2 separate regions of the Homo sapiens genome follow, and region 1 is linked to region 2. The links come from fine-mapping of genetic effects on plasma protein levels. A gene starts in region 2. The other region holds a variant in brackets. All regions are shown on one strand. Distances are between the middles of the regions.

The links. A credible set is the group of variants that fine-mapping cannot tell apart. PIP is the chance, under the fine-mapping model, that this variant and not a neighbour inherited with it causes the effect. The UK Biobank Pharma Proteomics Project read protein levels with antibody pairs (Olink). The fine-mapping took linkage between variants from a reference panel, not from the people measured, so its PIPs are less certain.
Region 1: its variant is the best candidate, but not a certain one, in a credible set for the plasma level of the CPE protein (UK Biobank, PIP 0.85).

What each region holds. Positions count from the first base shown.
Region 1 is chr4:165,254,796-165,260,183 of GRCh38, reverse strand. The region is part of intron 4 of KLHL2 (kelch like family member 2); the gene reads right to left. Among named protein-coding and RNA genes, the nearest start is that of GK3, 22 kb to the left of the region's middle. The variant T/C (reference allele first, on the strand shown) is at 2,204.
Region 2 is chr4:165,376,047-165,381,434 of GRCh38, reverse strand. CPE (carboxypeptidase E) reads right to left here and starts at 2,427. Exons shown (of 9, transcript NM_001873.4): 1 at 1,907-2,427. The coding sequence starts at 2,213. RefSeq lists an enhancer at 111-655 and a silencer at 2,135-2,394.

The DNA.
Region 1 (5,388 bases), 120 kb after region 2:
CATAATTATGTAATTAATTATATACAGCTTCAAAAGCAATTACTAATTGACCCAGCTTGCTAACATGACGCCTGGTGACCATCAGTCACTGATAATGAAAACAGGAAAACAGCTGGGGCCACATCAACTCCTAGCTTATTTTGGGTGCCAAACAGCCACTTAAAACAAAATTTAAAATGCTCTGACTTCAGATGAACCACATCCCATGATCAAAACCACTCAAACAGCTGTCACCCTGCAAGCTGAAAGTTTTGAGATCAAATCAAATCAAACCTTCTAATTTGTGTGATGAAGAAACCACACCCTCGAGGGGTTAAACGGCTTGACCAAGTCATACAGCGAGTCATGGAAAGCTAGGGATATAATCAAATTGGTCAGCTCTTTGGTCTACTGTTCTAATACCTTCAACCCCAAATTTAGGTGCAGAATGGAAGTATTTGTATAATTTCTAAATCTCCAACACTGTCCTTTTCATGAAGAATAATAAAGACAACAACCACTTCAACAATGCATTATTGCAGTTACTTCCATTTACTGAGTAATTACTACATCAGGCACTGTGCTAAGCACTTGCCAGACAATAATATCTCATTATCTCCATCATACACAAGCGAATACAGAGGGTAGGAGAAGTTGGGTAACTTGCTAAAGGTCACACACCTGGTATGGGACAGGCCAAGCCTGCTATGAGAGCGGTACTAACCAAAATGTGCATAATGATTTTAGATGACATACAGATAAACTTCTTGCATTAATAGTTAAGAATATAGGTTCAGGGCAGGCTTGGTGGCTCACACCTGTAATCCCAGCACTTTGGGAGGCTAAGGTGGGCAGAGCATTTGAGGTCAGGAGTAGGAGTTCAAGACCAGCCTGGCCAACATAGCAAAACCTCGTTTCTACTAAAAATACAAAAATTAGCTGGGCATGGTGGTGCACACCTGTAATCCCAGCTACTTGAGAGGCTGAGGAAGGAGAATTGCTTGAACCCAGGAGGCGGAGGTTGCAGTGAGCCAAGATCGGACCACTGTACTCCAGCCTGGGTGACACAGTGAGACTCCATCTCAAAGAAAAAAAAAAAAGAATATAGGTTCATAGTTAGAAATACATTTTTTTAAGTTATTTTCCATTTATTTCAATAATACAATAATATAAACATTCCTTCTCAAGTAAACTTATTTAAGCAAAAATTGACTCACTGTAGAGAAAAACATTAAAAATTTAATAGCATCAGCACTTGTAGAATATAGCAAAATCCTGAAGCTGGCCCACAAATGATTACAAGTGATCAGAATTTGGAAAACCCTGATTTAGGAGATCAGATTTAATATTCTAGTCTTTCAATATCTAATGTAATTCTGATCCTGTGGTTTTACATATCACTGAAAATGAAGAATGTGCTTTAATCTGGAGCTATCATAATCCCTTGGCTTACTTTCTACTGAAGTAGATACATTGTACTATTGGTAACAAATGTGAGAAACACCTAGCAATGTAAAGAGGTGATTTCTTAATTTGCTATTTAGGTCACAAAAATATCTTGGGCATTGTAACTAAAAGGTCCAATGAATAAATTTATGTCTTTGAAACTTATTTTCTGAGCTCTCTGAAGCAAAGGAGCAGTTGAACAGTGCTGCTTCTCATATGAGGTAGAATTACATTGATACAATAAACCCCCAGCCACCATCTAATGGAAATTTCCATCTAGTGCAGAGTTGCACTAGTGTTAACCCTGAGATTGATTAAAAATAACCCCAAGGCACTCTATGATCCTTTTTTTTTTTTTTTTTTGTCATAGTTAAGCACAGACCATCATGCAGTACCTTGGATTTCTATACAGTACTCTTGGTATGATATGAAAAAAAAAATTCTGCCCTAAATTTTGTTATTCTCTGGATTTAAGTATATTCCAAAACATCAAAGATGGAGCAATTATAATTTGATATATATTTTGAATGTTAAAAATATTTTCTAAGAATCTAAGAGTGATTAAATTCCATATAGTGTATGCACTGAGGGAAGGCCACACTCCAAAAGCCAAAATATCTCTCTTGGGTACATCTGCCTCTAGGAAAAATGTAAAGCGGACAGTGAATGTAAAGAGGCCCTCGCCCCTCCTTCCTACATCCTTCTCCTTTAGTTCTATTCCATCAACCGAACCCTGAGTCTCTTCACTCTCAGTTTATCTGTGTGCCATCTAAAATCA[T/C]GAGAACCCTGGTGTTCTCACCATGGGCTCAGTCCCTTTCAAGTCACTACTAACAGCACTGCTCCATTTCATTTGCTTCACAGCACCTACTGCTGTCAGCACTGATGTTATGTATTTGTTCCCATGTTTACTGTCTTCCTGCAAAGGAATGTAAGCTCTGTGGCAGTAGGATCACGTCTGTTACCCCCTGCCACATCCTCAGGTCTCAGAATGTGTACCTCATAAATGAATCAACCTGAACATAATTTTATGACTCCCATGTGTATTTCTATTTTGAGATACAATTGTGCATGTCCTTTGAGACAAAATTACAAGCTCTGTTTCTAGGAATGTATATGTACCAGACACTTCTTGTAGCCTACCACAAATCTTCTCAGCCTTACTTCTTGCCCAACCCACCACTGCAGCAACCAGGCCCAAGCAGGCTTTGACCACCTTTCTGAAGATGTAACGTAACAGGGCCTCACCCCAGCCCCTGGCCATACCTCTCTCTGGCTTCCTATCCTAGGCCTTCAGTGATGCACTGGGCTCATACCCACACAGTCTGGAAGCATGCAGGAAATAATGCTGTGGGACCACCCTTGACTAGTGGAGAATGCATCAAAGGAAGAGAAATACTTCCCCCTGGTATTCTCCTAGAAGACAGTTCTGAGACATATTTTATAAGGCTTTCAAAGGTCCCGTCACATGTAGCTATGGCCAGATCTGTACTGCACCTATGAACCGGTTTTCCCTCCTTTCCAGCTCAAGTCCTCCATTCACTCACTGTGGCTCCTTGGGATCACTTCCCAAATAAATGAACTGCACATAAGCCTTGCTTGCAGAAGGACCCCAAGCTGTTATATTACACAATGGAACAAACTGCGAATGTGAATATACTTAGCTAAAGAACTATTAATTATAGTGCTGTTTAAATTATAAAAAATTGAGAAGAACTTAAATGTCCAATAACAAGAGAAAAATAAAGTCAATTCTATAATATCAATGAAATTGAATATTTTTCAGCTCTTAAAAGAGATACAGTAGACAAATATTTAATGACTTGGAAAAATGTTTCTAATACATTTAGTATAAAAAGCTAGTTTCTAAAAGAATCTACAGTATGACCCCTTTTTTGGGTAAACACATGTGTACATAACAACAAACAGTATTAGAGGGCTATACCACAATTGTTAATATGTTTTATCTCTGGTTAGGTGTGATATGAACATTTCCTATTTATTTTTACATATTTGTTAAATTTTATGTATTTGTTAAGTGGTGCATTTTCTATGTACCATTTAAATGGTCAAATATTATTTAAAAGAAAGTCAGGGAGAAGCAAGTAAAGAAATTTCTTTCTGGATCTCTACAATGCTAGCAAATATAACAAGGGTTAAGGGGAGCTATATATGGACTGTGGCTTCTCCGGGAAATATTACCCACCACTCACTAGAGATTGCCTCACTTTGGCGTGTTGAAAGGCCTTTGGAGTCTGAAAGGCCTTTGATCATCAAGCCAGTGTTTTGTAGAACAGTAACCAGGCTCTACACGTTACTCTTCCTGTTCGGTGAACAGCAACAGTTTTAAGTGTTTGGAGAAACATGAAGTAGAAGGACATAGCACCTGATTAAATAAATCTAACTTAAAATGTTGTCATTTTGAAAAACGGGGAAAAAAAAGCTTTTTTATTTGTACATGTTGATTTCCAACCAATGGAGACAAATAAAAGGCTGCACATTTTTTACCGTGGAGATGCTTTCTGCAATAAACAAAGAAACGGAGGGGAGAAGCCACCACTGATCAGAGAAGACACTGTAGAGCATGAGAAATGGAAGACACCCAAGCCAAACAATTAGCATCTGTGTGACACTCTCACACCAGCTGCACATTGTAAAGATGCTTTCATCCTACTTCACATTGTTTGACAAGCCAAATTACATAGAAGATGTTTCGCTTAGACAAGTATACTCCTTCTGCTTGGCTATTAGGATCTGTAGTTTATTTTCAGCTTGCATATTTATTCCATAGGGGGAAATAATTTATGTAGTATGTCTTTTAAATCCTGAGCCATTAGCAGTTTGCTTATTAGGAAGAGACTACCAAAGGGTCCGATTGCTCCACATATATATAACTTCTAAATATCTAAGAAAACATGCAAGCATGAAAAGACAGCTTTTGTTGTTGCTGTTGTTTTTGACTCAGCTAGCCATAGCTATCCTGCAAGGTGGAGCTTGGGGAGGAGTGTGGGGAGAAGGTAGGCAAGGGTGATGTGTTTAGAAGATGAAACGCTTAGTGACAAGAAAGGCAGATCTGGGTGGAGAGTCATGGTTGGATGCACATAGCAGAGGGCTGGGTTTTGCGGCCAAGGAGTAGGGTTTTGAGATGTAGAAGTATGAATAAGGAGATGGCAGAGTGCCAAGGACAAACATTTCCTATGTCAAAACTCTGCACCGGGCCAGCCCCCTACATCCCAGAAAGAGGAAGGAAACTTTCTTCCTCCTCCTTTCCTGTACCCCACATGCAACCTCGCCTGCCTCCTCCCAACACTCCACCCCTAGGAATAGGTATGTCCCACAGAGTTTAAAAAAAACAAAAACAACCTCCCCCTCCCCACAAAAAAACTGTCTGATTAGCTCATATTAATGGCTAATAACACAAGATCTTCCAGAATAAATCCCTTCTAGGGGTTTTTAACATTTTAAGAGAGGTTGACTCTTAAGCAGAATACAACTGCAATTGGTGGCATTTCCAATGTTATAATTAATGAAGTAGAAAAGCAAAGGTAGTATGGAGAGGAGAAATTTGGGGGCAAAGCAGCCTCAGGCAGACTGAAAGCCATCTCTCCTACACTATCCTTTTTCCAGTTGCTACTTCTACTACTTTTAACCCAAGGTTTCTCTTAAAAGTCCAACTTATTTGAGAGTGGCTCAAATGGATAATGAAGACACCACCTACCTTTCAGGGTTATTGAAAAATTAAATGTCAGTCAACGATTTAACACAATGCATGGCAATGACCATGTAGCACATCAGCTCTGACTCAGCGCTTTTTTTCTTGGATTGAACATTCTACCTCATGAGAATTGAACACCAAGATTTACTCTCTCCCGCATAAGATGATGTTTTATCCCAGATCATTCACAATATAGGTAGCTTCCTTTTTTGATCAAATATTCTCAACATAAAAGATGTAATCAGGGAAAA
Region 2 (5,388 bases):
GTTATGCAGCTATTGATGGATTCATTTTTTCCACACTGCATATTCAGTATTTTTCCATAATGTAGATTATTTCATAATGTATATTCAAGCCCGCTGTGTGCCAAACATGAGCTGGGTGCTGGAATCAGGGTCCCCACTTCATACAGCTTGCAATCTAAAAGAAGGATTTGCAAACCTTGATGAACTATATATTCCAGATACTTAAGCAAAGAAATCATTGTTTTCATTTTCTAAAGCATATCACATTCTAACTGTAATATCACTTTAAAATTTTATTTCCAAATTTGAAACAACAAAAAGTTAAACATTAGCTTTCATATAATCTCTTGAAGTAACAACGCAAAAAACTCTGGGATCAATCTACAAAATAGAGTAACAAAGGGTTCTCATTAAGTAAGCAGCAGGAGACTCACAAATACTTACATTAGCTTTAACTGTGCCTAGGATATCTTGGCTTTGGTTATTGGATTTAGCTGAAAATCAGTTATCACATTTTAAATTTTTCCCTGTCTTCAGATAACAGTATGAAACTAAGTTTCAAAATGTCCAATCCTACATGCTGAATCCTGGTAGATAAGAGTAGTTAATATTAAATGTTTTCTAGGATCTGATCTTAGAATTTTGACAGCAAACTTACATGAACCTTTTTTTCTTATATTATTTGAAGGTAAGAAATATTTCCTGAAGATTTATTCTTGATCAACCCACCTACTATATATTTGAAGATCAAAATGTCTATTGATCACTTATTTTAATCTCTTCTCAGTTTGGTTCTTACGTATCATTATAAAACTATACTGGCCCTGCACTGAGAATTTTTAGCCTACTTTTCTTGCTTGCTTTGTCATTAAACAAAAATTAAGCATCCATCCCATGCTGATATTATTAGCACAGATTACTTTAGCTGTACCTTGATTATCAGAAGACCAGGCCCAAATTATTTCCTAAGCAGAAACATAACGAAAAAAGTCCCAAGAACATTTTTAAATACCTCTTTATTAATACTAAATGCATCACAATTAACATAAACCAAAAGGTGCTTTAATATACTCCTAGGAAAGACGAATACAGATGGTTATTTGGGAACATCAGTTGGAATAAAGACCCCATCACAAACTATTCATCTCAAATGGTTATAGCAGAGAAAATGGAATACTCCTTTTTCCTTGGAAAGGCCTTGTGCAGTTTCAAAATCTGGTTTCAAAAGTCAGAAACCACTTTTCACCCTGGTAGGAGGAGGGGCACCAACGTATCTTTATACACCACCACCCCAGATTGGCAATATCCCTAAGATTCCCCAAGCATCCACAGCAGCGAGTGTACCTAATACGTATACACACACAGGTAGAGATGGGTACACAGAGCCAATAAACTGGTCCTCTGGAAATTAGAGAAAACATGATAAATGACTCTTTCTCCCTCGTTCTCCTTTCCTCTCAATCACTGCCTTCTGCACCTTATCTTTCTACTCTTGTCAGCAAGGAAGACCAACCCCCCTTGCGGGGGACTCGCAATCATTCCTTTGGGTTTTTCACACAGCAAAGTGAGAGCGACCGCTGGGGTTGCGTGCGTCAGGATTTGTTTTTTCTGTATTGCTATCCCCCCCATCCCCCGCCACCCCAGCCTCCCAAGCCTATACTTACTAGAGGGTGGCCTAAGGTCTGGGGAGATGGGATTGGTGCTGGGGGGATGGGACGGGAAAGCAGAAATTGGGCCACTGGCGCTCTAAGTCGGGTTCTTCCCCATTTCCATCCCTCCCTCCACTTCCCACCTTCCACCTTAGATACCTTTTACCAAGAGGCACCCCTGGGCCCATCCCTCCCTCCTTCCCCCACCGCCACCAGTCCCACCCTCTGCCGCCCCCCTCCGGGATGCCCCCAGGGCTGTCAGGGGGCAGCGCCCTTACCAGGCTCATGGACGCCAGGGTTGTCGGACAGCTCGATGACCAGGAGCTCCCGGCCCTCGAAGCTGCGCCCCACCGTGTAAATCCTGCTGATGGCGGTGCACTGCAGCCACACGGACACGAGCGCCTCGCGCAGCTCGGGGTAGCGGTGGTACTCGAAGGAGATGCCGTCCTCTTGCTGCAGCCGCCGGCGCCGCCTCATGCCCGCCGCGGGCGCCCCGGGCTCCTGGGCTTCGGCGCCCAGGAGCCACCCGCAGGCAGCCAGTGCCCCGCACAGAGCCAGCAGCGCGCTGCCCCCTCGCCCGGCCATCGCTGCGCTCCGCCGCCGCCGGCCGTGCCTTCCTACGCGGGCGGCCTCTTTTGTCTGCCCGGCCCTGGGCTTAGCCCGCCGGCGCTGCTGGGGGCGGCAAGTTCCGCACCAGCCTCTACTCGCCTCACCTTCCCCGGCTGAATGAGTGTCAGCCCGCGCACTGGGGCCACCCAGAGGAGACGGGCAAAGCCGCGGCTCCACGGGCTGCACTACTGGCCGCGGAGCCCAGGGGAGCTGCAGGAGAAACCACTGCGAGGAGGGGGCCGGCGGAGAGACGGGCCGGCGTGGATCTGGGAGGGCTGCTGGCGTTATTTGCTGGCTCGGAACCACGTCAACAGCCAAATGGCGTCCGGGACGACGCAGGTGAAATGACAGCTAAGGTCCGGGGTTCGGGAACGTTACTGTCATTGAGACACCCATGACCCACCCACGTCACTGCGTATGGAAAAAATATTCTTGTATTGTTAGTGGAGCCTTTTAAAGGGACATCTATTCCAAGCCTACCAGTTTCCATCTTGATCCACCAAGAATTAGAGAATATTCCAGAAAAAAGGAAGTACTGGCAGCCACTTGCCATCTCCTGATGCGTCTTTCATAATTGTATCAAGAGTCAAAACACAAACCCAAGGGTTGGGTTTTCATTTATTAGAAGGTCTTGCTGGAAATCAGAACATTAAGTGCTTTGATTTAGAGGTTTAAGAGAATAGAAATGCTTTCTTCCAATTTGTAGATACTGTCCTTAATTGTATTTATGCACATTCCTAGATTCTTCCAGAAAACAAACAGACAAAATAAATAAGGCAATGTCATATGGCTGTGCCTGCACCAGCCCTCCTCTTTAATACTATGGGGAAAATAAGTACAACTCTGCTGATGCTTTAGACAAAGGATTTAGTTTGGCATTAAGATTAAATCCTGTTAAGAAAACTCTGATGATGACATGACACCTCCGTTCCTTTTGCAAAGCTATTGTAAAAATAAAAAATCATTTACAGCTTTAAATATCCACCCCTTAGTCGGGATTTATATTCCTGGAGCAATGTCTGGAGCAGATGTTACTCTAAAGAGGCTGCTGTTTGGATTCAGGGACAGCACAAATCTAAATTAATAAATAATCCATTGGGTATTGCAACCGAGCAGGAAAAGTGGACACCATGCGGGTAATTTTCCATGTTAAGCTTCTTTGTTTTTCTAAACTTGTTCATTCTTCACCTGTTTAACAATGCATTGCACATAATAAAAACTTTTACGTGGAAAAGGAGTTAGATATTTAAGTCATCTTATTGGATCAATAAATAAAAGCACAGACATGGTTGGTAAGGTGCTGCTGGAGGGGCTGGCTTTAAACACCCCTATGTACATATACTACAGCAGCATGGATCTTCTTTTTTTTTTTTTTTTTTTTTTTGCGTTTTCGGGGAGAAACTGTCACTGTAAACACATGGCACTCAAGTTGAATTGATGTGGATCCAGCCATTTTTTTTTTTGTCAATGTAGGCAGAGCTAAAAATTGTATATTTTCCACTATGACCAGTCTGTGCTTGATTACATGGTCCAGAAGTTTGAAATCAAACTTATAATTATATTTCTAAAACCATGCCCAAAACAGCAACCTTGGAAGCCTAGAAAAAAAAATTGAGTAGCTAAAACCAAATAACTTCAGAAGTAGGAGGTTAAGATTTTCATGTTAGCAATTTAGAGTAACCACACTAATTTGTGGCTAGGTGGGGCATACTGACTAGTAACTACACACATAAACAACATATTTTTCATTGAAGTCCTGTGTTGTTCCTTAGCTGTCTCTTTGAACAAAGGATATGCGTTCTATTTTCTCCAAAATAAAAAATTTTGGAATGAAAACTTGGTCTTTGAATTTCTGGGCTATTTTTAGGTGTAGGTCAGCTGTACCAACTTTACTGGCATATGTATTACTTGTTTGTGGCTTCATAGGCAATTATACAAAAGATTATATATCCACCCTGATTGCTGGATTTAAAAAATTTTATTTTGGAGAAAAAAAAATTGTAATGTGTAAAATCATGCCTACTATGTGGTCTCACTTGTTGGGCAGGGGGTTCTCTTTTACAGCTTAGTTGTTTGTTTCCCTAATCTATAAAATAAAAGGTTTGGATTTTTCACTCTCTAACGTTTGCTTGCAACAGAATCATGTAGAGAGTTTATAGAATGTGCAGATTCTTAAGCCCCTATGAATTCATCAGGTCTGGGGTGGGTTTCAGGTATTAACAAGCTTCTAGGTTTTAAAAAGAAGACCAGTCATTTCTGATGTTGATGTTTGATTGACAAAGACATTTTGAGAAATAATGTACTGTAGGTTTCCCACTGTCTCTTTCAGACCTAAAATGCTATGATTCTGGAAATTTTCTTTTTGAAGTGAATTCCTGCTCATTTGATAAATGGTGGCACTCCTCACATATTATTGGTCGTACTACATACACCAAGGCATCAGTTCAAATGAACTAAAATTTGGTCTTTGAATTTCTGAGCTATTTTAGGTATAGGTCAGCTGTATCAACTTTACTGGCGTATGGATTACTTGTTTGTGGCTTCATAGGCAATTATGTAAAAGATTATATACCCATCCTGATTGCTGGATTAAAGAAAAATCTTGTATGCCAAGTCTTTAATGTGTGTACACATAGTTAAATTTAGTATGCAATCTCCATTTCAAATCATGTGCACACATGCACACACAAGAAACAAAAAGAGAAAGAAAGAGCTGCTTTTTCTTCATGTCATTATAGGCATCCATAAGAGCATATTTAAACTCCCTAGGTCTCCCTCCACTTCTTGCTTCACCTCTATTATCTTTAAATTAAGAAACTATCTTTTTCTTTATCAATAATATTTTATTTCCTTCTTTCAAAGCCCTTCCTAAAATTCGTCTACTTCATAAAAATTTTGTGAACACATAGCTCTATATTCATCCTGATGTGTGCTGGTAAATGTCAGCTGTCTGGGGGGAAAAGTCTGACTTAGAATGTTTGCTAATTTCCATGGTTTAAATATTCCCACCATGGCTGATTTCAAACTACCAATGTTGTATCACTGAATACAGTGTTAGGAAGAGATATGCAGTAGCATGACATCATATAGTGTTGTGATGGGACAATTCTTTATACTCCTCCTTTGCAAGTGATGAAACTTAATTTCTTCC